Linked DNA regions of Homo sapiens: region 1 is linked to region 2. Evidence: fine-mapped expression QTL. A gene starts in region 2. The other region holds a variant in brackets. All regions are shown on one strand. Distances are between the middles of the regions. Region 1 overlaps ZFYVE28 (zinc finger FYVE-type containing 28). Region 2 holds the start of ZFYVE28 (zinc finger FYVE-type containing 28).

Region 1 (11,329 bases), 86 kb after region 2:
TGCTGGCCTTGGCCTCCCAAAGTGCTGGGATTACAGGCGTGAGCTACTGCACCTGGCCTAGAGTTGGTGGTTTAGAAGGAAAGAAAGTGCTCTCATCTGGGGAAGGGTTGGACAAGCCTTCACGTCTCAGAGCCACTGGCAGGCCTCCTGCAAGCCGCTGTGCCCAGCCTGGGCTGGCTTCCGTGGCTGTGGAGGTCCACGTGCGGAGGTTCATGTGGGGCTGCGGGTTGTTCACCCACCCGTGCACGTGTTCATTCGTTTCTCTCTCGCCCCTTAAGGCTGGTGCCAAGGTGGGGGATGGTCCCGCACATGGGCAGCACTGGGTCCAGGGTGGTCAGGCTCCAGGGTGAGCCCTGGGAGCTGGCACAACTGTCCCGCATGGGCAGGGCTGGGGTTTCAAGGGAAGGCCTGGGGTAGGCCTGGCTGGCAGGAGCTGTGTACTATGAAACTGCCGAAATGGGATGGTGGTGTAGGGTGTGTGTGTGTATTTTAAGAGAAAAGGTCTTGCTTTGTCACCCAGCCTGGAATGCAGTGGCACCATCACCATTCACTGCAGCCTCCAACTCCTGGGCACAAGTGATCCTCCCACCTCAGCCTCCCAAGTAGCAGAGACTGTAGGTGCCTGCCACCACCACACCCGACTTTTTTATTTTTTGTAGAGATGAGGTCTTGCTGTGGTGCCTCGAACTCCTGGGCTCAAGCCATCCTCCCACCTCAGACTCCCAACGTGCTGGGATTACAGGCGTGAGGCCCCCCGCCCCCACCTTGCCCAGCATTGCAGCTTTAATTGAAGATGCCCCCCACTCTGTTTTGGAGGGGCCCCGCCACAGCCCAGGTGCGGCCTCACAGGTCTCCATGTGTTTGCAGCTACGTCTCGGCCATGGTGCCTGTGAAGTCCCCCAGGGAGTACTACGTGCAGCAGGAGGTCATCGTGCTCTTCTGCGAGACGGTGGAGAGGTGAGCACAGGGATGCTTAGGGGCTGGGGGCAGCATCTGGGGAGTCCCTGCCTCACTCCAGGCCCGGGGCAGAGGGCAGCTCTGGGGGAACCTGCTGTGTCTCGGGAGTGCCCCAGATGGAAGGCACCAGACGTGTCTTCCCACACTACATCCGGCTTCTCCTCACAGGTGGGCAGAGGGTAGAGGCCACCCCTGCCTTTACCTCTGCCCGGCCCCCTTCCACCGCCCCACGGTCGCTTTTCTGTCTGCCAGAAGGTCAGATCCTGCAGGTGAAGTCACTGTCAGAGGACAAAAGCTGGAAGGCTCTGGCATGATGGATTGGACGTCCAAACCTTGTCACCTTCCTCACCCCCTCACTCCTCACCTACTCACTCCTCATGTCCTCACTCCTCACCTCCTCACTTCCCCACCTCCTAACTCCTCACCTCCTCACTCCTCACCACCTAACTCCTCACCCCCTCACTCCTCACCTCCTCACTCACCTCCTCACTTCCCCACCTCCTAACTCCTCACCTCACCTCCTCACTCTTCACCTCCTCCCTCCTCACCTTCTCACTCCTCACCTCCTCACTCCTCACCTCCTCAATCCACACCTCCTCACCTCCTCATCTCCTCACTCCTCACCTCCTCACCTCCTCACTCCTCACCTCATCATTCCTCACCTCCTTACTCCTCACCTCCTTACTCCTTAGCTCCTTATTTCTCACATTCTCACTCCTCACCTCCTCAATCCTCACATCCTCACTCCTCAATCCTCACTCCCCACCTCCCCAGTCCAGGAATGAGTTTTTGCTGAGTTTTAAGTCTGTTGAACAAGTGTTTCTTTTTTAGGGAGTGGGGGGGGCAGGGGGAAGCCATCAATATTCTTATCAGGCTTTGTACAGTAATTTGGAGTCTGGTTTTCTCAATGGACTTTGGGGTTAAGATGTAACCTTGATGTTTCTCTTGTTCAAGTGGTACTATGGTGTTTGGAAGATTTGAAATTGACTATTATCACATTGTATGTTTGTTATTTTTAAAAAGCAAATTTTTACTCTTTGTGCTTTGAGAGATATTTCAAATTATCAGAAAATAAGATGACGGGAAATTCCTTTTATTTTGAAAAGTCACGATGCCAGCAGGCCTGCTCACGAGGTGCAGGAAAAGCCCTCCACAAGCCCCGGGGAGGAGAAAGGAAGCTGGTTTCTCAGGGAAGTGTTGAATTGTTTGGGGCAGTATTTTTGTTCCGTGTTCATTCTTGACACCGGAGTTGTTTCGGTCTCCTGGCTGAGCAGAGCCGTCCTCTGGGTTGCCTTACTGTCTTTGCTGGGCATCATAGCTGTCCTCACACATCCTCCCTGCCCCTGCCTCCTGGGGCAGAGGTGGGGACTGGCAGATGGGAAGGTCAAGCTGGAGCCACCTGCCAGGGCATTTAGGGAAGTGTGTGGCCTTTTCCTGCAGTCCCAGCCCCTTGCACATATGAGGACTGGGGGTGGCATGTGTCACCTCTTGACGTGGCCACCACGCGTGGCTGCAGGTACAGATTGAGCGCACTGCCTGTCCCTGCTGGGGTCCAACCTGTGGCTGTGGTGGGCCAGCCCTCATGCTGCTCACTGTCCGTCTCCCCGGACAGGGCCCTGGACTTCGGGTACCTGACTCAGGACATGATTGATGACTACGAGCCGGCCCTCATGTTCAGCATCCCCAGGCTGGCCATCGTGTGGTGAGTGCCTCCTGTGCCCAGGACCTCTGCAGAAACCTGCGGGACGGGCAGGGCTGATGGTGCCAGGTCCCGTGCGGGTGCCGGTCCATGGCGTCTCCACCTCACGGTGGCCGCTCAGCTGTCCCGATCAGTGACAGGCAGGCCTGCTGTCAGCCCTCAGCAGACCAGGGGACCACGTGTCCTGAGTGCCCCCTGTTCACCTTGCTGGTGAGGGAGGCTCTGTCACCCTAGATAGGGCAAGGTGGCCTAACACCTGCCACCTGCCACTGGACAGGTGAGATCCACAGGTGAGCTCATTAGTCACAGGAGACCATGAGGGTCACACAGGGGTCATGCTCGGAACAGAGTGGCCACGCAGGGGCTGTGGGAGGCAGACTTGGTGGTAACAAGAGGACGAGCTGCCCCCCGGGTCCCTCAGGAGGCTGTGATTGGCTTGTTTGAATAATTTGGGGGCTGGCAGGGAGGTGAAGCACATTGGGTTGAAGGGCAGGTGGGGGCAGTTGGTCTGGCTGATGGAATACCTGTGTGGAACCTTTCCTGCCAGCGGGGCCGTCTGGGAGAGCAGGGAACTCAAGGCAGCCTGTAGGGTCCTGTGGGGCTCAAGGACGTGAACACAGCACATGGAAGCTCAGGCCTGAAATCCACCGAGGCAGGATGCGCGGGGTCACCTGCTTAGCGTCTCTGAGCTGTCTGGGGCCAAGGTTAGAGCCCAGGGGTCAGGCTGCTCATCCACACCCTGACTCCAGACGGGGATTCCCCATGCCCCTGCCAGGCGGATGGTCACGGGGGCGGAGGAGTGAGTGGACCACAGAGAGCTTAGTGGAGCTTGCAGCTGGGGGGGAGGCGGAAGTGGGGAGGGGGAAGAGGGGAGGGGGAAGAGGGGAGGGGGAAGAGGGGAGGGGGAAGAGGGGAGGGGGAAGAGGGGAGGCGGAAGTGGGGAGGGGGAAGGGGAGGGGGAAGGGGGAGGGTCCAGTGGGCAGCGGCCAGCAGGTGTGGGACTGGGCAGAGTAGGGGATGGGGAGCCCTTGAGAGAGATGCCCGTGGAGATGTGGATGTCAGTGAAGTGGTCGGGGAGTGGGGGGTGGGCACAGAGGCCACGACTGGTCCAGGCTCAGGCTGGAGAGACCTCACTGAGGCCATGCTGAGGAGCCCCAGGGGACCCCGGGGCACAGGCACACGTGGCAGTGCACTGGGGTTGAGCATGGATACCCCTCCCGTGGGAAATGGGGGTGCAGAGGTGGGAGCACGCGGGGCGGTGGCAGTGCAGTGGGCTAGGGCCAGCGGCGGGGCCTGCAGGGGACAGAAGTGCTTAACCCCAGGATGCGCCGAACACCCCTTGTTGGAGTGGGGAGCAATGGGGGCTGCTGCCGGGGCCAGTCTGGACACCCCTGGGCCAGGCCGCTCACTCCCCTAGGTCCTGGTGCCACCTCCTCCGGGAGGGCTCCAGCGTGGTCTCTATCTGCTGGGCCCTGGCTCCCCAGAGTCCCCTCCAATAGCTCAGGGCCTGGCCTGTTTCCTGCGCCGTCCTTCCCGTGTCCTCGCAGAGGTTGCGTCTTTCACAAAGTTAGCAAACCAGAGAGAGTGAGCCTCACATCGCGCCAGAGGGAGGCTCGGAAATCCTCCTGCCGTTAGACTCAGGGAACTTCCTTTCACCTGAAGACCTCAGGGCTGGAGGGCAGGGTGTCCCCAGTGGCCAGCGACAAGGTGGCTTGGAGGGAAGTGTCCTGGCGGGGAGAGGCCACCCCAGAGCACAGAGCGCCCCTTCCCATGGGCCACAGGATTTGGTGACATTGTTTTTCTTTTCTAGACAAGTGTCTCTCTGTGGCCAAACTCACTTGAAGAAAATGACAGGCAGTTTTGGTCCTTATTCTTCTCTTTGTTTAAAAAACAGAACAGCAAAGATCCTGCGAGCCGGCCTTGTTTCCACCAGGGCGCAGGGCGCTGTGAGCCTTTGCCTCAGGTACAGGTGTCTCCTTGTCCCAAGGGCACTCACAGCAAATGAACAGCTCTGCTGTCCTTGTAAAAAGTTCTCCGCGAGTGCTTTGAGGTGTGGCACCAAGCCACCCGCCCACTCATGCCCGTGTCAATGAGCCGGTGAGCCCTGGCTGGACTTCCTCTTAAAGGTCGGGCCTGGAGTGTGCAGGTGACCCCAGGTGACCCTCCCCGCAGGCCGCACCCCAGGCATACTGTGTTTCGGGACTTTCACACTGAGTCTGCTGCCCGTGTTTGCCCGAGTACAGGCGACCGCAGAACAGCAGCCACTTCCCCCAACCAGTATCATCTGTGTCCTGCTTGCCGACCTCAGTCCACCTGCTGGTGGCCAAACCTCTGCTCCTCCTTCTGTCCTAGGCTTTCATCCTGGGAGGCAAGGGGAGGCGGGGGCTGGGGGATCAGGGTAGGGGAGGCCAGAGGAGGGAGGTGGGGGGGCAGCTTGGGGAGGGAGGTGGGGGAGTGTGGGGGGTCAGGGAAGGGCAGCAGGGGGGGTCAGGGAAGGGCAGCAGGGGAGGCCAGTGCTGCGGGGGAGGCCAAGGGAGGGAGGTTGGGGAGGGAGGCTGGAGCTTCTGTTGGCAGAGGCTTTGTCCCGCGGGTCCCCTCCTGGAGGCACTGGCGTGGGGTCCCCTCGGGCTCAGGACAGTGGGAGAGCCTGGAAAGGGAGTGAGGGACCCCCAGGAGGTGAAGGGGGCTTGGATTGAAGGAGGGAGGAAGGGCGAGAGGGCATAAGAGCCCAAAGCC[A/G]GAGTCCAGGGAGCAGGCCTGTCCAGGGGGGTGGCCAGCTGTGAGCCCCCACAGAGGCAGGCATCTAGCCACAGAGCCAGGCTGTGGATACGAGGAACCGTGGGGTGCACCAGGCTGCCACTGCAACCCTCTGTGCAGCGAGCCTCGAGCAGGGCGGGTGAGTGCTGAGCGGGTGAGTGCTGAGTGGGCAGCTGTTCCTAAGGCCGCCCCTCTGGGATGCTCACTGGGGCCCTGCAGCCCTGCACCACCAGCGGATCCCGTCTTGTTCCTCGTCATCCACAGCGACCGCTTTGAGCCGGACAGGCAGAGGCCACAGCTGCCCGTGGTGGGGCCCAGAACCTGCTCCTTCCTGTGTTCATTCAGTGAGCAAGTATTGAGTGCCTACTGCATACCTCGCCCTGTGCTTGTACCAGGGAGATGGACAGATGGGCTGACCCACAGTGCTGTGGAATGTTCTGGATGCTGGAAGGGGGACTCAGTGCAGGGACCCCATGGGGTGGACAGGAGCTGAAGGCGTGAGGGAGAGGCTCCCCAGGGCAGCCGGCCCAGAGGTGGGAGCTGTGCAGGTGGCAGGCAGGGGCACGTTGGTGCAGGTGGTGTATGCTCAGGGGCAAGTCCAGGGCTCGAGCAAGGACCAGGGGGCCGCAGGAACTTCTGCAGAAATGAAGACCCCTCTAGCCTGCATTCCTGGGCCCACACCCTCGCAGGATCCTGCCTCTGTGAAGTGGGCATCCTGGGACCCCCCAGGTGACCCCCAGGGAACACTGAGAGCAGAGGGGAGGCAGGGGTGCTGAGCGGGGCAGGAGCTGAGGGTGGAGCTCCTCTGTGGCTCCTGCCCGTGACTGTGCTGCTGCCCGAGAGCCCCAGTCCCTTCTCCAGCACACAGTGTCAGAACAGTGATGCCACATTTACCAAGCATGAGCTGCGGGCCAGGCTCCCGTCCCCTTCTGAGGGGCTCCCAGTGGCGAAGGCACCGCTGGGGGTCAACAGCTGGAGGCGGCAGAACCAAGCCCACCCGAGGGTCAGAGCCTGCTATTCACCTGTGACACAAGAAAGCAGAAAACTCTAGTTCTGTGGCTGGCAGAGGAGGCCTGCCTGGGGCAGAGGCAGTGGTAAACTGAGGCCTTCAGATTGGCAGGGGGAGGTGGAAGGGAGTGCTGGGTGGCACCCTTCCCCCTGTTTAGGGTGTCCCCAGCCTGGTGGGGTCTGGCCTTACCAGGCAGTGAGGACAAAAACTGGGGGTCACCCCTGTGGGGACTTGCTCTGAGCCGTAGGGGAGGGGCCCCACTTGCCCTGCACCCCTCAGCCTGTCCCCTCCCTAAGACCTGCATCCAGTCAGTCCCTCCTGCTGATTGAGACACGCGTCCTGGGGAGAGTGTCTCCACGAGGCTCAGACTCTTTGACAAACTGGTTTTACTTTTGGGGATTTATCTTAAAACAGTTTCTTTTTTTTGTTTTTAACTTTTTATTTTTATTTTTTAATTAAAAAAAAAATAGAGACAGGGTCTTGCTGTGTTGTCCAGGCTGGTCTCGAGTTCCCGGGCTCTAGCAATCTGCCTGCCTTGGTCTCCTAAAGTGCTAGGATTACAGGCATGAGGTACCGTGCCCAGCCCCGGCCTTAAAACAGTTCCTTTAAAGGAAGAAATGAAATAAAACCTCTAGACCCAGTGGTCACTTCCCAGTCCCCATCAGCACAGACCTGCCTGCCCGCCTCGCTGCGGCTTCGCCCGTCTGCACTCACAGCTGTGTGTGTGCGACGCTTCCCAGACCGGACCTGTGCAGAACCCAGGCCCCTCTCCTCTACCCCTCCCTCCCTTCCTCCCCAGCCCCTCCTTCCAGCCCATCCCAGAATCTACCCCTCCCTCCCTCCCCAGCCCCCTCCTTCCAGCCCATCCCAGCGTCTACCCCTGCCTTCCTCCCCAGCCCCCTCCTTCCAGCCCATCCCAGAACACGTGCAGGAGCCACCGCCCACGTGGCCTGCAGGATGGTTGCCGGATCCTCTTCAGGGGCCCTCACCCATCCACCTGTGTCAAAACAAGGTGTCATCTCTGCCCTGCTCAGACCCTTGCCGGAGCTCCCACCGTGATCTGCCTGCACCGTGCCCACACCAGTCCTCTCTCCCCAGTCCCCACGCACCCGCTGCCCTGGGTCTCCACCATGCTGTCCCCTTCGCTCAGGGTCCCCTTGACTGTCCTATCCCTACTGCCACACTGTCCCCTCCCCCGCACTGTCCCCTTTTCCATGATGTTTCCTCCTCCACGCTGTCCCCTCTGCTCCAGTGTCCTCTTGGCCATGCTGTCCTCTCCATGGTGCTGGCCCCTCCACTACACTGTCCCCTCCTCTATGCTGTCCCCTTGTCTATGCTGTTCCCTCCTCTATGCTATCCCATTCTCCATGCTATCCCATTCTCCATGCTGTCCCCTCCTCCATGCTGTCCCTTCCTCTGCAATGTCCTCTCCCCTGTGCTCCTCTGCACTGTCCCCTCCTCCATGCTGTCCCCTCCTTTATGATGTTCCCTCCTCCGTGCTGTCCCCTCCATGATGTCCCCTCTTCCGTGCTGTCCTCTCCTCTGCACTGTCCCCTACTCCCTGCTGTACCTCCCTCTGCGATGTCCCCACCACTGCACCGCTCACCCAAGCCCTCTCCCACCAGCAGGTTGCGTGACTTACTCTGTTATTTATTTTTCCATGTTACTGAGATAAAATTCATTACCCTATGACTCACCCATCTACAGTGCACAGTCGTTTTTGGTACATTCAGAATTGTGCAGCCATCACCACAAATTTCATAACATTTTCATTACTCACAAAGATGTCTCTTACTCCTGAGCGGTCACCTCCACCCCCTATTATCCTTCATCCTGCCCCTTAACCCTAGGGAACCACAAATCTATTTTCTGTTTCTATAGATTTGGCTATTGGGTTATTCATATAAATGGGATTTCTGTTATTTTTGTGTCTCCCCCACTAGACTATAACTCTTATTCACGGATGCATCCTGAGTGCCTGTCATGTCATAGTGTGGTGGACTTTTGCAGAATTTTGTTGCATTGATCTGAGGGGGCACAAATATATATCCACAAAGATTATCCCCGAAGTATTACTTGTAATCATAAAAATTTGAGAAGGGATGGATATCCAGAATTAAGGGATTGGTTAAAAACAATACTGTAGCCATTTAAATAATGATGGAGAAAAATCTCCTAATGCTATGCAAAAACATCCCCAGTGTATTAAGCACAAAAACTGTTATCAAATAGTATGTCTCTATTTTACAGAGTTTCTTAACATTGATAGGTAAAACTTTTGTAAACAGAAATTAAAGCAATAAACATTCTTCTTTATTGTGGTAAAATATACATAACAAAATTGGCCATTTTGACCCTTTCTTAGGGTTTTAATGGCAAAAATTGCAATTACTTTTGCACCAACCTAATATATAGGATTTACCCTTTTGTGACTGTCTTATTTCACTTCACATAATGTTTTCAAGTTTCCCCCATGTTGTAGCATGTGTCAGAATTTCCTACCTTTTTAAGGCTGAATAATATTCCATTGGATGTAATTAGCTGTTATTTTAAATAAGAAATGTGTGATAACATTCAAAAGAGTAAAATGCCTAGGAATAAATTTAATCAAGAAGGTGAAAGGCATGGATGCTGAAAACTAAAAAACGTTGCTGAAAAAATTAAAGACATAATTAAAGAGAAAGACATTCCATGTTCATGGATGGGAAGACTTAATATAGTTAGAATGGCAATACTCCATAAAGTGATCTACAGATTCTGTGCAATTGCTGTCGAAACTCCATTGGCCTTTTTGTTTTGCAGAAATGGAAAAGGTGTTCTAAAATTCATGTGGAACTGCAATGGGCCCTAAATAGCCAAAACAATATTGAAAAACAAAAACAAAATTGGAAGATTCATACGTCCTGATTTCAAAACTTACTACAAGTCAAAACCTTATGGTACTGGCATAAAGATAGATGTATAGACCAATGGAATAAAATTGAGAAGCCATAAATAAACCCAAACATCTATGGTGAACTGATTATTGACAAGGGGGCCAAGATCATTCAATAAGGAAAGAACAGTCTCTTCAGTGAATGTTCCTGGAGCAACTGGATAACCACATGCAAAAGAACAAAGTTGGAAAAAAAAAAAAAAAAGAACAAAGTTGGACCCTGCGATGGTTAACTTCATGTGTCATCTTGGGTAGGCCACATTACCCAGATATTTGGTAAAATACCAGTCTGAATGTTGCTGTGAAGGTATTTTTTTTTCTTTTTATAATGATAAACTGGCAATTTATAATTGCGCAGATTTATAGCATGCAAAGTTGTGTTATAATCTATGAATGCAGTGTGGAATAATTAAATCAAGCTGGTTAACATATCCATCACCTCAAATATTTAACATCTTTTGAATGAGATCATTTTAAATTTACTCTCTTACAATTTGGAAATGTACAGCACTCTATTATTAACTGTATTCACCATGATGTGCAAAGAACTCAAAAAAAGAAAAAAAATTCTTCTAGTCTGAGATTTTATACTCTTTGGCCATTCCCCACACCCCCAGCCTCTATAACCACTGTTGTGCTCTCTGATTCTATAAGTTCAATTGTTTGAGATTCCACAAGTAAGTGAGAACATATGGTATTTGTCTTTCTGGTCCTTACTTATTTCACTTAGCATAATGTTCTAAAATTCCATCCAATTTTTCACAAATGTCAGAATCTCTTTTGTTTTTAAGGCTGAATAGTATTCTATTGTGTATATATACCACATTTTCTTTATTCATCTGTTAAACGCTTAGGTTGATTTCATAACTTAGCTATTGTGAATAATGCTGCAATGAACATGAGACTACAGACATCCCTTCAACAAACTGATTTCAGATGTTTGGGGTAAATACCCAGAAGTGGGATTGCTGGATCATATGGCAATTATATTTGTAGTTTTTTTGAGGAACCTCTATACTGTTTTCCATAATGGCTGTACCAATTTACATTCCTACCAATGGTGTGCAAGGGTTCCCTTTTCTCCACATCCTTGGTAACACTTATCTTTCATCTTCTTGATAAAAGATATTCAGACAAATGAGAAATGATATCTCACTGTGGCTTTAGTTTGCTTTTCTCTAATGACTAGTGATGTTGGTCATTTGTATGTCTTCTTTTGAGAAATGTTTTTATCCCTGAAATGCAAGGATGGTTCAATATACACAAATCAATAATTGTGATACATCACATTAATAGAATAAAAAAACCATATGATCATCTCATTAGATGCAGAAAAAGCATTTGATAAAATTCAACATCATTTTATGATGAAAAACTCAGCAAATTAGATGTAGAAGGAATATATCCCTTCAAGGGTACCACTGAGTGAAAATGTAAAACAGAAAAAAAGAAAGAATGTGCCTTAACGCAATAAAGGCCATATATAACAAGAAGCCCACAGCTAACGTTATACTCAATGGTAAAAAATTGAAAGCCTTTCCTGTAAGATATGGAACAAGGCAAGGATGCCTACTCTTCCCACTTCTATTAAATATAGTATTGAAAGTCCTTGCCAAAGCAATTAGGCAAGAGAAAGAAAGAAAAGGCATCCAAATAGGAAAAGAAGTGTAATTGTTACTGTTTGATGGCAACTTTATTCGATATATATATATATATATATATATATATATATATATATATATATATATATATATATATTTGAGATGGAGTCTTGCTCCGTCACCCAGGCTGGAGTGCAGTGGTGCGATCTCAGCTCACTACAACCTCCACCTACTGGGTTCAAGCGATTCTCCTGCCTCAGCCTCCTGAGCAGCTGGGACTACAGGCATGAGCCACCATGCCCAGCTAATTTTTGTATTTTTAGTAGAGACAGGGTTTCACCATATTGGCCAGGCTGGTCTTGAACTCCAGATCT
Region 2 (11,329 bases):
TGGGGGTGCCCTGGGAAGCAGGGGCTGAACCCAAGTGACTGTCGTTGTGGGGAATTTCCAGGCTGCGATGCAGGTAGCCCCAAGGTGACACTGGCTGGCAGGACAAGGACAGAGCAGGAGGGCAGGGGCTCCCGGGGGTGTCTCCAGGAGGAGCACCTGGCATGTTCTGTGAGTGGGTTTAGCTGCACAGTTAGGGAAAGAGGCTGTGACGCTGGACCTGGCTAGGGATGGCATCAGCCCAGGGCCTGTGTCCCCACCTCCCTGCTGGCTGCACCACCTGAGGCCTGACATGGGCTGTTCTTTTTTTTTCTTTTTTTGAGATGGAGTTTTGCTCTTGTTGCCCAGGCTGGAGTGCAATGGCGTGCTCTTGGCTCACTGCAACCTCCATCTCCCAGATTCAAGCGACTCTCCTGCCTTAGCCTCCTGAGTAGCTGGGATTACAGGCACCCACCACCATGTGGCTATTTTTTGTATTTTTGTATAGCCACCATGTGGCTAATTTTTGTATTTTTTTAGGAGAGACAGGATTTCGCCATGTTGGCCAGGCTGGTCTCAAACTCCTGACCTCAGGTGATCTGCCTGCCTCAGCCTCCCAAAGTGCTGGGATTACAGGCGTGAGCCACCACGCCAGGCTGTCCTTTTAGGGGCTGCTTTAGGGACCAGCCTGGCTGTGCATGGACACAGAGGCCAGCAGGAGCCTCTCTCTAAGGAGGCCAGAAGAAAGGCCGCTTGGAATTTGGAAATCTGGCTTGAAGCCCTGGTGCTGAAAACAGGCCCTGGAGACCAGGCCTCCCAGAACAAAGCGAGCATGAGCCTCTGGCACAGCCAGGACCGTCACTGCCCGGGAGCCTGCCCTGGGCCCCGGCTGGGTCCCCCTCCCCCCACCCCATGTCTGGAGACCAGCAAGGCTGCCTGGAGGTGCGTTCCTGCGCCAGTGCGGTCCTGATGATTCGGGGCAAGGGAAGAGACAGTGATGCTGCTGGCTTGGAGAACACCAGATCAGAAGCCATTAAACCCGCAAATCCACAGATGCTGAAATCTAGATGCTGCAGCCAGGCTTGCCTGGGCAAGATGAGAGAGGTTTGTGGGTGAGGCTGCCCAGACCCTCTGAGGGTTCCCACCCCCTTCATGGCCTGCCCCTGGGGACCTGCCACCTAAGCTGCCTCAGCCCATCCTGCGGGAAACCTTTGCTTCTTGGAAGGCTGGGCCATGGAAGAGAGACCACCCACACCCCACCCCAGCCTCAGGGTCCTTTCACTCTCCTCTGATCCCCTCTAGCTGAGTCTCTGGCGTGGGGATTTCAACAGCTGTGAGCAGAAAGGCCCAGGAGGCCCACTGAGCACCCTCCCCTGAGCCTGCCAAGGCAGGAATACTCAGGGCAGGGCCTTAAGCTTGTGACAGGCTCACCCTAAGTCCCTGCTCTCTCTGAATTCAGCCCCTCTCCTCGGGAGGGTCCCAGCAGGCCAGGCCACCAGTATGGCAGGGGTGCGGTGCGGTGTGGTGCAGTGTGGGCGTGGTGGCCAACCCTGGTGGGTAGGTGGATCCAGGCAGCCATAACACAGCCAGGGGGCAATAGGCTGCTGGCAGCAGGAAGCACTTTTCTGGGGCATTGCTCTTTGGGGAGGGGGGACTTGTGGCTTTCACTCCAGGCATTGCTGAGAGCAGTGGGGGCTCCCTGTAGGCAGTGAGCTCACAGCTCACAAATCCCACTCCCCATCTTCGCCAGGGTCAGCCACACTGAGACGTTTTTTAAAACTCCACAGCGTAACTGGGGACTTCTCTACAAAAAAATTAAAGAATGACTCAGGTGTGGTGGCACGCCTGTAGTCCTAGCTCCTTGGGGGGCTGAGGTGGGAGGATCCCTTGAGCCCAGGAGGTTGAAGGTGCTTTGGGCTATGTCTGTGCTACCACACTCTAGGCTGGGTGACACATTGAGATCCTGTCTAATAAATAAATGTAAAGGTCTACTTCTAGAGAAACAATGTTAAAGAGTGAGTTTTCTTGCCCTGCCTCCACGTCACGTTGTGGGTCAGGCTGCCCTGGGATGGGGTCCCCTTGCCCCAGCCTTTTTGAATCTGCTCTGGATACAGCTCTGCCTGGAGGAACAGGGTATACACCCAGGAAAAGGGCCCCTTCTTGCGCCTGGTGGGGGCGGTGAGAGTGGATGGTCTGCATGTGTGTGGTGGGAGCTGCTGCCAAGGTGGAACAGTTTCCCTGCCGTCTCCCCCTGTCCTGGAGCTGGAGCATTCTGGAGAAAGGATGATCCTAGGTACCCTTTGGTGATGCAAATCGAGGAGGAGGAAGAGGGCCATGCCAAGCCCGCCCCCCAATCCAGGGCGGACCTGGTAGGAATGAACTGGAAGGAATAAATGGACAAACCAAGTTGAAGATGGGGACGGGGGTGAAGAGCTCCTTTGGAGTCCAGCCTGACTCAAATTGTCCTGCCCTGCCCCTGGAACCCTGGTTCACTGTCCGGCCTGAAGGTCCCTGGGGCGGGGCCTCTGCACCCCTGAATCTGGCGCAGAGCAGGTGTATGTGAAGGTGAATGTAAGGAAAAGAGATGCTTGAATTCTGAATCCCACTGAAATTAGCCTAGGAACTTCATCAAAACAATCACCTCTTTGGGGAGGAAATAGGTACTAAAATTCATCCAACTGTGACGCCTGCTTTCAGCATCTCAGCTACATTCATGCATTCTCAAATTCTCAGCCTGATTTTATTTTTTTCCTGATTTAGGGTCTCACTCTGTCACCCAGGCTGGAGTGCAGTGGCTCGATGATAACTCACTGCAGCTCAAGTGATCCTCCTGCCTCAGCCTCCGGGGTAGCTGGGACTCTAGGCATGTACTACCACGCCCGACTAATTTTGTGCTTAATTTTTTTTTTTTTTTTGTAGAGACAGGGGTCTTACTATGTTGCCCAGGCTGGTCTTGAACTCCTGGCCTGAAGCGATCCTCCCACCTGAGCATTCCAAAGTTCAGCTTTAATAGTGAAGTACCATCTATGTGGGAAGTGGGATTTAATTCTCAAGTTTAAAGATTTTTTTCTCATATTGATTTTAACTCCATTGATCAGGACTTGACTATCTTATATTTAAGGCAACTTTAAAGGTGGGCTGGACTAGGCTGGGCGCGGTGGCTCATGCCTGTAATCCCAGCACTTTGGGAAGCCAAGGCGGGCAGATCACTTGAGATCAGGAGTTCCAGACCAGTCAACATGGTGAAAACCCATCTCTACTAAAAATACAAAAATTAGCCAGGCGTGGTGGCAGGTGCCTGTAATACCAGCTACTTGGGAGGCTGAGGCAGAGAATTGCTTGAACCCGGGAGGCAGAGGTCGCAGTGAGCTGAGATCGTGCCTCTGCACTCCAGCCTGGGCGACAGAGCGAGACGCCATCTCAAAAAAAAAAAAAAAAAAAAAAGGGTGGGCAGACTAAAGCTTCTCTTTCCTTAGGAAATATTTTATAGACACAAATGAGATTATATGAGGAGGTTTAAATTCCATCAGACACAAAACAGCTCAACACTCTCAACCACTAGGAGATAACTCATTTACCTAAGATCTCAAATGTATGTTAATTAAAATATAGTCTTTTCTCCCGATTAAAGCCAGTCTCCTAAGGGTTGCTACCAAGTCATGCCCCTATGGCTTGTGCTTAAAGCACAACCCCACGTGGCAGCTTTTGCTAGTTGCTTTTCAATCTCCACTACCCCTTTCCTCCCAAATAAGAAAACTCTGATTTTTAGCTGGGTCTACTGCTGCCCAATTGAAAGATGGCATTTCCCAGCCTCCCTGGCAGCTGGGGCATGGTTGTGTGGCTAAGTTCTCCCACCACCTTCAAGAAGTGGAAAGGTGTGAGACTTCTGGAAAGTCTCCCTGAACGAGAGAGGCATATCCATCTTCTCTTTTGCAGCTGGTTCCTGGGCCGAGGAGGTGATGGCAGGAATGTGGGCAGCCATCCTGGATCATGAAGAAACGTGAATGGCAGATAGAAAAGCTGATCCTTGAGGACTTTAGGGCTGCCATACCAACCACGATTGCCTCTCCATGGACCTCTTTTATAAAAATATGAGTAATATTCTTGTTTAGGCCACTGTGATGTTGGGATTTTTCAATACATGCAGCTAAACCTAACTGATACCCCACTTCCCCAAGTTCAGCCTTCATCCCATGCACAATTTCAAACTATAAAACACAGGAAGGGAGCCTCTGAGCAGATACAACTGCTCCAGGCCTTGGAGTTGGCCAAGGATAGACCCACAGAGAACAGCCATTCACTCAGTGGACAAGCCCATCAAGTGTCTACCCCAAGATCCTGTGCTGAAGAAATGATGGCTTTGGGAGCAGCAGGTTTTATGGGGGAAGACTGAGAGTGTGGTTTGGGACACGTTAAATTTGAGAGGATCTGTTAGGCGTCCAAATGGTGAAGAACAGGTAAACAGGTCTGGAGTTTCAGGGTTGAGGCTAGAGATATAGGTTTTGAGAAGTTTGGGAGAAAATGGTTGTTTATAAAACCATGTAACTGTAGGAAATCCCCCAGGGAGGGAGTGGATAGAGTAGGTTCCAAGGACTGAGTCCAGGGTCTCCAGTGTTGAGAGGTCGGTGAGCAGGGGAGGCATCCAGCCAAGGAGATCAAGCAGGAGTGGCCAGGAGCGAGGAGGAGAAGTGGACAGTGGGATCTGTTTCAGCCAAGTGAGGATGCTGTGTCACGGAGAGGGCACAGTCGGCTGGGTCACGTGGTAGTGACAGTTCAAGGAAGAGATGAGCGCTGACCCCGATCATCGGATTTTGCAACATCAAGGTCAAGGATGACTTTGATAAAGAGCTTCAGAGGAGTGGTTGGGTGAAAATCTGATGGGAGTAGTTTCCAGAAAGAACAAGTGGGAAGGAATTGGAGATAAGGGGAAACTCCAGAGGGGTTTTGCCCTTCAGAGGGTCGACTGGGTGGTAGGAAGAGGAGAGTAGGGAAAATCAATCAGTTACTCAAAAATAAACATGGACCCTACCCCCAACTAAGAGAAATCTTAGATGCCAGCGCGCCTAGGCTCACATCGCGTCTGTTGGAATAAAGTGGTCATGGAGCCCACGGACCTTTCTGAGCACCTGGCACTGGCCAGTGAGGACAAGCAGGAACAGGTCAGACTTCTCAATTCTGAACCGAGGGGGGCATGACTTCCATCTCCTGTGTCTTACATCTGCACGTTTCACAACAAGCCAGAGACGTGGTGGTGGTGCGGCAGGGAAAAGTGCAGCGCTGTGGGGTCAGGCCGACCCAGATCCGCCGTGATCTGGATGCAACCCCCACAGCCAGGGCACGCCGGCCTCGTTGTGCCTGCTTCTCTGGCTGTCAATGGGAAGTTTAAGTGAGGCCACGTGTGGGTTTTTAGCTCTCTGCTTGACACATAGCAGGTACTCAGATTGAGGTGAGCGTTTTAAGGTACAAATTAGGGCACCACTGGGGGGAGTAGCGAGGGCGGAAGAGTATCTTTTTAGAACGCACCGCTGATAGTGGTGATTTAAAAAAAAAAAAAGAGGCACCGTTCACTTTCATCGGGGAGCTGGGAAGAAGACAGAAGAGGTGTTTGGGAGAAGCAAGATGAGCAGCGAGCGAGAGGGAACCGGCCGGCAGGTCATGAAAATCGGCGGCGCGTCGCCCCGCACCTGTCCCGCCCCCGTACCTGGCGGGCGCTCGGGGCAGCCGAGCCCTCCTGCCGCCGCCACCTGCCACCGCAGCAGTTTCCTGGGCCAGCTGGGGCTAAGGTGTTGGCAGTCGTCGTCCGTCAGCTCCCGGTAGGCAGGACGCCGCGGCTGTTTGGCGTCGTCACCTAGCAACCGGCGGCACGCTCCGCCGCCATCGGGTGGACTACAACTCCCACAATACACAGCGCCGCGGCGCGGCCCGGGACGCCAAGCCCTGGGCGCCACCTCCCCGCCATGCCTTTCGGGACTTGTAGTTTCTTGGATACCCGGGCGCGGCGGGTCGCCCCGCCGGCAGGGAGCGCGCCTCGGGCGGGGTGCGGCGCCCGCGCAGGGATTGGGCCGCCTCCGCCCCGCCCGCCCCGCCCGCAGCGCGCGGTGGGCCCGGGGCTCGCGGCGCCCTAGGCGCATGTGCGGCGCGGGGCGGCCGTGACCAGCGGAGCGCTGGGTGTCAGTGAGCAGCGAGGAGCCGCGCGCCCCCGTGCCCGCGTCTGTCCGTGCGCCCGAGCGCCCACTCCCGGGTCTGAGGTCTGCCCGGCGCGCCGCTTGCAGAGCATACTCAGGGCCGCGCACCTGCCCCGCGCACCTGCCCGCCGCCCGCTCGGCGCTCCGGGCTTCGCTAGCCAGCCTCCCTGCGACAGCGCGGGGGCTCCGGCCGTGCCTCCGCGTCCGCCCCGCGCCTCAGCCGGGCCCGGGCGCAGCGCTGCGGAGGGCGAGGGCCGCCCGGAGTCCGGCCAGGGCCGGCGCGGCGATGATGAACAGGTTCCGAAAGTGGCTCTACAAACCCAAGGTGAGCGGCCCCGCTCGGGCCGGACGCCCCCCGCGTCGCGGCCTCTCCCTTCCCCAGGACCGCCCGTCCGCCCTACAAGACGGACTCCCTTTCCCTGTCCGTGGCCGGCCTCTTCCCCCACCGCCGACATCCTTCCCTCCACTCCAAGACTTGGACAGATCTTCATCGCCCTGTCTCTGAGGCGGATCCGAACCTCCCTCCCGGCTTCCTAAGCCCGGGTCCAGGACTGACCCTCCTGCTCCTCCTCTCGGGCCGGGGCGCACTTTCCCTCCCCCTCTATCCAGGGCCACAACGGGCCCCTCTCCCTCCTCATCCCGGTCCTGGACGGTGCCCTCCTACACTTCGTGGTCCCCAGCCCGCGGGCCCGGAGCAGACCCCCTACTACTTCTCCGTCTCCCCTCCCTGCACCAGGAATGCCCCCTCATTCCCGTCCTGCCCCCACCCCCATTGTCCTGGGCCCGGAATAGATCTCCCTCCGCACTCCAGAACAGACCCTCTCCCCACTTCCCCAGGTTCTGAGAGAACCCACATTTCCCAATCCCTGGGTCCAGGGCAGACCCGTCCTTCCATGTCCAGAGAGGATCCTGATGGCCCTGCCAACGGCCTCCCTTCCCGAACCAGGACTGACCCACACCTCGGCCCAGTTCGCGTCCCCTCCCTTGTCCCTATCCTTGTCCCTTCCCCACCCACGTCCTCTGGAATCCGGGACAGGTCCTCCGCCCGGCCCTTGGGGCGAGCGCGCCCGTGGCCAGCAGCCTCGGCGGGGCGGGAGGTGCGGCTCTCCAGCCGGCGCCCGCGCCTCTCCTAGCGCCGCGGGGTCGGGGTCCGGGCGGCGCGCCCCGTGCCTCAGCGGCTGCGCCAGTCGCACTGCGGGCGCTGCGTCCCCGCCGCCCGCCTGGGGCTCGTGCCCGCTGCAGCCGGAGCAGGGCCGGGCGCGCTCGGCGCGGGATGAAGGCGCGGCGGTGTTCAGGATCCCGGCGCAGGGTCCAGGGCGCATCTGGGCGTCCGAGGGTGGCACCCTGGGGCCGGCGCAGCGGGGAGGCCCGGGCCCTGAGATCTTGGGGGAGGTCACGGCTCGGGTGGGGTCACCGCGGCGACCAAGGGCGGGAGTGGGGCCAGCGCTTCGTCCGGGCAGCTCGGACGTCCGAGGCCACCGCGTTGCCGACCTACCCCTCCTCCCTCCACTGGCCGCCTTTCTCCGTCCAGCGTCCCAGGCCTCCGCCTCCACCGTGGGTGAGCTGTCACGGCAGAGGTTTCCTGAAATCCGTGCCTCGCGTGCGCCCATTCCAGGAAGGCGGGAGGTGGGTTTGGAAGATCGGCACGGAGGTTTGAGGGCTCACTCAGGGCCCCGAAGGGCGCGTGCTTCACGGCCTTTGAGGTCGGGGAATTCTGTTTGTCGTTGCCGGAGTGTTGGGTTGAGGGCTTACGGTACATGGGGCGCCCCTTGCTCGGCCTTGGCTTGATTGGGAGGGGACTCGGGGGGATTCAGGGTTCCTGTGGCGTCACTCCCTGCTCCCAACCTCCCTGTCCCTAGCAGCGACTTCTTAAGGGTTCGTCCCGAGCCTTGCGTTTCCTGGCGCTGGGTGTGGTTTGGGGCCGAGCCGTCTGCGCCCAGCCTCTCCTCCTGCGGCGCCTTCGAGCCCCTCTCGGTCCTGCCTGCTGCCCCCATGTGCCTCTGCCGGGGTAGGGCGGTGGCCTCCGCTCTGGATAGCTGTATGAATGGTGTTTGGTTCCAGTGACTTTTCCTCACCAGTTACTGAAAACCAAGTCTGCTTGTAAAACGGCGTTTTGGGGGCGTGCAGCAGCATTATTTTCTGTGACAAATGGCGGGAGGCAGCTGGAGAAATGTGTCTTAGGTCTTAACTAACATTCTGGTGTCGCTGAAGGCACTTGCTGGGACACTAGGGGATGCCCCTCCGGACGTGGCTGTGGAAGAGGCCGCATTTGGGGGATCACCCTTCTAATCGTGTTGAAAAGGAAGGAAAAATAATTGTAGACTCTGTTTCATGAGTAGCTGAGTAATTTCAGGATGGCCTTGTCTGTTTCCGTTTAGGGAAGACAGGTTAAAGGTAGAACATGGTACTAGACGTTGTCCTGAGAATTAGGAATTGCGTTCCCAACTTTTCCTCTTCAGCAGGCAGCTGCCTTTCCAGGCAGGCGGCGGGCACCAAGAGGGCACAGCCAGTGAATCAGCTGATCCCAGGGATCAGCCCAGAGCTGTGTGCCTCCGGAGAAGGGATGGAACAGGATTGATGTGGATCTCTCCTTTTTCTCGTTGTCTTCTCCTGGCATGCTGTCTGGTAGTAGCTCCAGAGCTCTGGACTTGAGACGTATCTCCATTTCAGATCTGTCTCTGGCCATAGCATTTTTCTGGGAGCTGGTGCCCTGTGGGCAGTCTGAACTTGGGCTGTCTCTTATTTGAGAAATGTCTTTGGAGTTAAATATCTTGATTGTTTGAAGGGTCGGAGTATGTTATGTCACTCCATAGCTTTTCATTTTTCAAACCAAAGCTCAGATTCTTGCCTTGGATTATGAATTGAATTTTATGCTTCCCCTTCCTGTCTAATTTAACACATTTTGGCACAAATAAGCACAAAGTCAGTCCTGGGAAGATTCTGGGCCTGGAAGAGTTGAAGTGTTAAACATTAGCTGTGGGAGGATGTGTCTGGGGGAGACTGTTGCCTGCAGTCAGGAATTTTTTTCCCACTTTGTATTTAGATAGATGTACAATTCAAACTGAATTTTTAATTGAATTCCTGCTTTGGTTTAAAACTGCACAGCGAGCTTCTTTTTATAAATTTTTAAGTGTGTGTGTGTGTGTGTGTGTGTGTGTAGAGACAGGGTCTCACTATGTTGCCCCGGCTGGACTCAAATTCCTGGCCTCAAGCAATCCTCCTGCCTCAGCCTCCCGAAGCACTGGGATTACAGGTGTGAGCCACTGTGCTTGGCCAGCACTGAGCTTCTTGTTCATCACAATATGGTGGAAAATATTCTGAAATGAAAATATTATTCACTGTTCTTATAGTTATAAAAAGCAATTGGAAATGCTGAAAAATATTCCTGTGTGACATACATTTTGATATCTGAATAAAAATTAGCTACTACGTTAGCTACCTAAGTTGAGTAAAAGAATGCCTGATGAATAATACAAAAGTTTAACATTAAAATGACATTTGCAAATTATATTTCTATTCACTTTCTTAATCAGTCTTTTAAACACCAATATGATTTTTCTTGGTATAAAGTGTTCAGATCTTGTAAGTATTATCCTGACTTTGAACACTCCCAGGAAGAGACGGTGCAGGAAAACCTGTCAGCTTGTCCTGCTTTATTGATGTTGGTGAAATACTTTCTTGCCTTTCTTTAAAGTCTTTTCAAGAGAGTTTATGCTTTAGAAAGGCAAACCATTTTGGCATGGTTGGTGTCTTCATCTGAAACAAAAGTCTCAGTGCTGTGTTTCTTGCTTGGTTATGACTTTCTATTGATTGACCTGGCTGGAAGTTCCTGGTCACTAGGAGGTGAGAATTCCCGGCATGGGGGAGAGGGACCTGGACACTTACCTGGACCTGGGAGAGATTTCCTGGCCATCACCAAAGAGCATATTAATATCACTCAGGATGAATTTGTGTTTTCCATCTTTGAGGAGGAATTGACCCTCAGTGGGTTATGCTGGCTGGGTGGATGGGGTAGTTCCCATGTGGCTGGTTACCATGCTCAACCTTGCACTCCGAGAAGAGCTCGCTTGTCTGCACCCCCAGACCGTTTTCAGAGTGGGGGCTATTAACCTTTCTTGTCCCCCCGCTTTGTAGGAGAACATTCCTTATAAATCTGCCTTACTGAGTGATGTGTATTTGGCAACTTCCTGTAAACATTCCAGGCCCAGATTAGCGATGACATGGCCTTTGCCAAGAGAAGCCTGAGTGACTTGCTGGGTGTGTGTGCTTTATGAAAGAAGACCCCTTTGGGTTTGGTAAAGTCTGCCTGGGTGCCAACCCCACTGGCATGTTTTGTGGGAACCTGCCAGGACTGAGCAGTACTGAGTATGGGACTTCCTGCCCTTCGGCTCTTGTTAACCCAGCCTCAGTCACCTGAGGGTTTTCGGGGTTCCAGCCCACTTGGTCATGGGCCCTTGAAGAGAGCTGCCCATTGGTGGCCAGCACTCTGTACCTTGGCCACCTGGTTGAGAGGGGCGGCACCCTGGAAACGAAGTGGCAGATGGGGGCGGGCCCCAGAGTGGGGGGTGGGGCAAGGTCTGGATATATCTGTTTGGTCCCGAAGTGCAGAGATGAGGCGCAGCCCAGTCCTCCTTTTGGGGCTCCCCACTGGTGGCTGAGGGTGAGGGGCGATGACAGAGATCCCCCAGAAGTATACAGCTGGGGCTTGGAAGGCTGTGGGAGGGGTCTTGGTGGACACTGGGGCCTGGCACGAGTGGGGCCTATGAGAGGGCAGTCACTGGCATGTGCCTTGACTTCCCTGCTTTGCGTCACCTGGGAAACGAATGGCTGTCCCTACAGCACTGCGTCCATGCCCCATGCCAAGCACAGACCCTGTTCCAGGGACTTGGGATTTGAGTGATAACTTCTAGCCAGGCTACTGATGAATTCGTTTTCAGCTGATAAACTCCAAGTGCCCAGCTGTGGCAGGGGGTTGTCCTTGGCCTGGCACGTTTCTCTCTGAGGTGAGCTGCTGGAAAGCCAGTGTTCCGGATGCTGCACAGGCTGAGCCCGGCGGTGCTCCCTCTCCTGGCGGGCGCCTGGCACGGAGGGGGCTCAGGAAGTCCTGGGAGGACGCTTGGCAGTGCTGAGTCAGAGCAGGCGTGGCTGGCCCTGCGCACCGGTCTCTC

What was found. PIP is the estimated chance that this variant, and not a neighbour inherited with it, causes the effect.
Region 1: its variant is fine-mapped to the expression of ZFYVE28 in whole blood (INTERVAL, PIP 0.99).

What each region holds. Positions count from the first base shown.
Region 1 is chr4:2,327,035-2,338,363 of GRCh38, reverse strand. ZFYVE28 (zinc finger FYVE-type containing 28) reads left to right here. Exons shown (of 13, transcript NM_020972.3): 5 at 868-957; 6 at 2,570-2,659. Among named protein-coding and RNA genes, the nearest start is that of MXD4, 71 kb to the right of the region's middle. RefSeq lists enhancers at 3,445-4,242, 4,661-4,720, 4,243-5,040, 4,971-5,050, 5,041-5,838 and 2 more. The variant A/G (reference allele first, on the strand shown) is at 5,393.
Region 2 is chr4:2,413,442-2,424,770 of GRCh38, reverse strand. It overlaps ZFYVE28 (zinc finger FYVE-type containing 28), which reads left to right and starts at 6,126. Exons shown (of 13, transcript NM_020972.3): 1 at 6,126-6,486. The coding sequence starts at 6,448. It overlaps CFAP99 (cilia and flagella associated protein 99), which reads right to left and starts at 5,816. Exons shown (of 16, transcript NM_001193282.4): 1 at 5,678-5,816. RefSeq lists enhancers at 1-245, 246-835, 1,426-2,016, 7,407-7,965, 7,966-8,524 and 2 more and silencers at 5,602-5,651, 5,892-6,121, 6,242-6,401.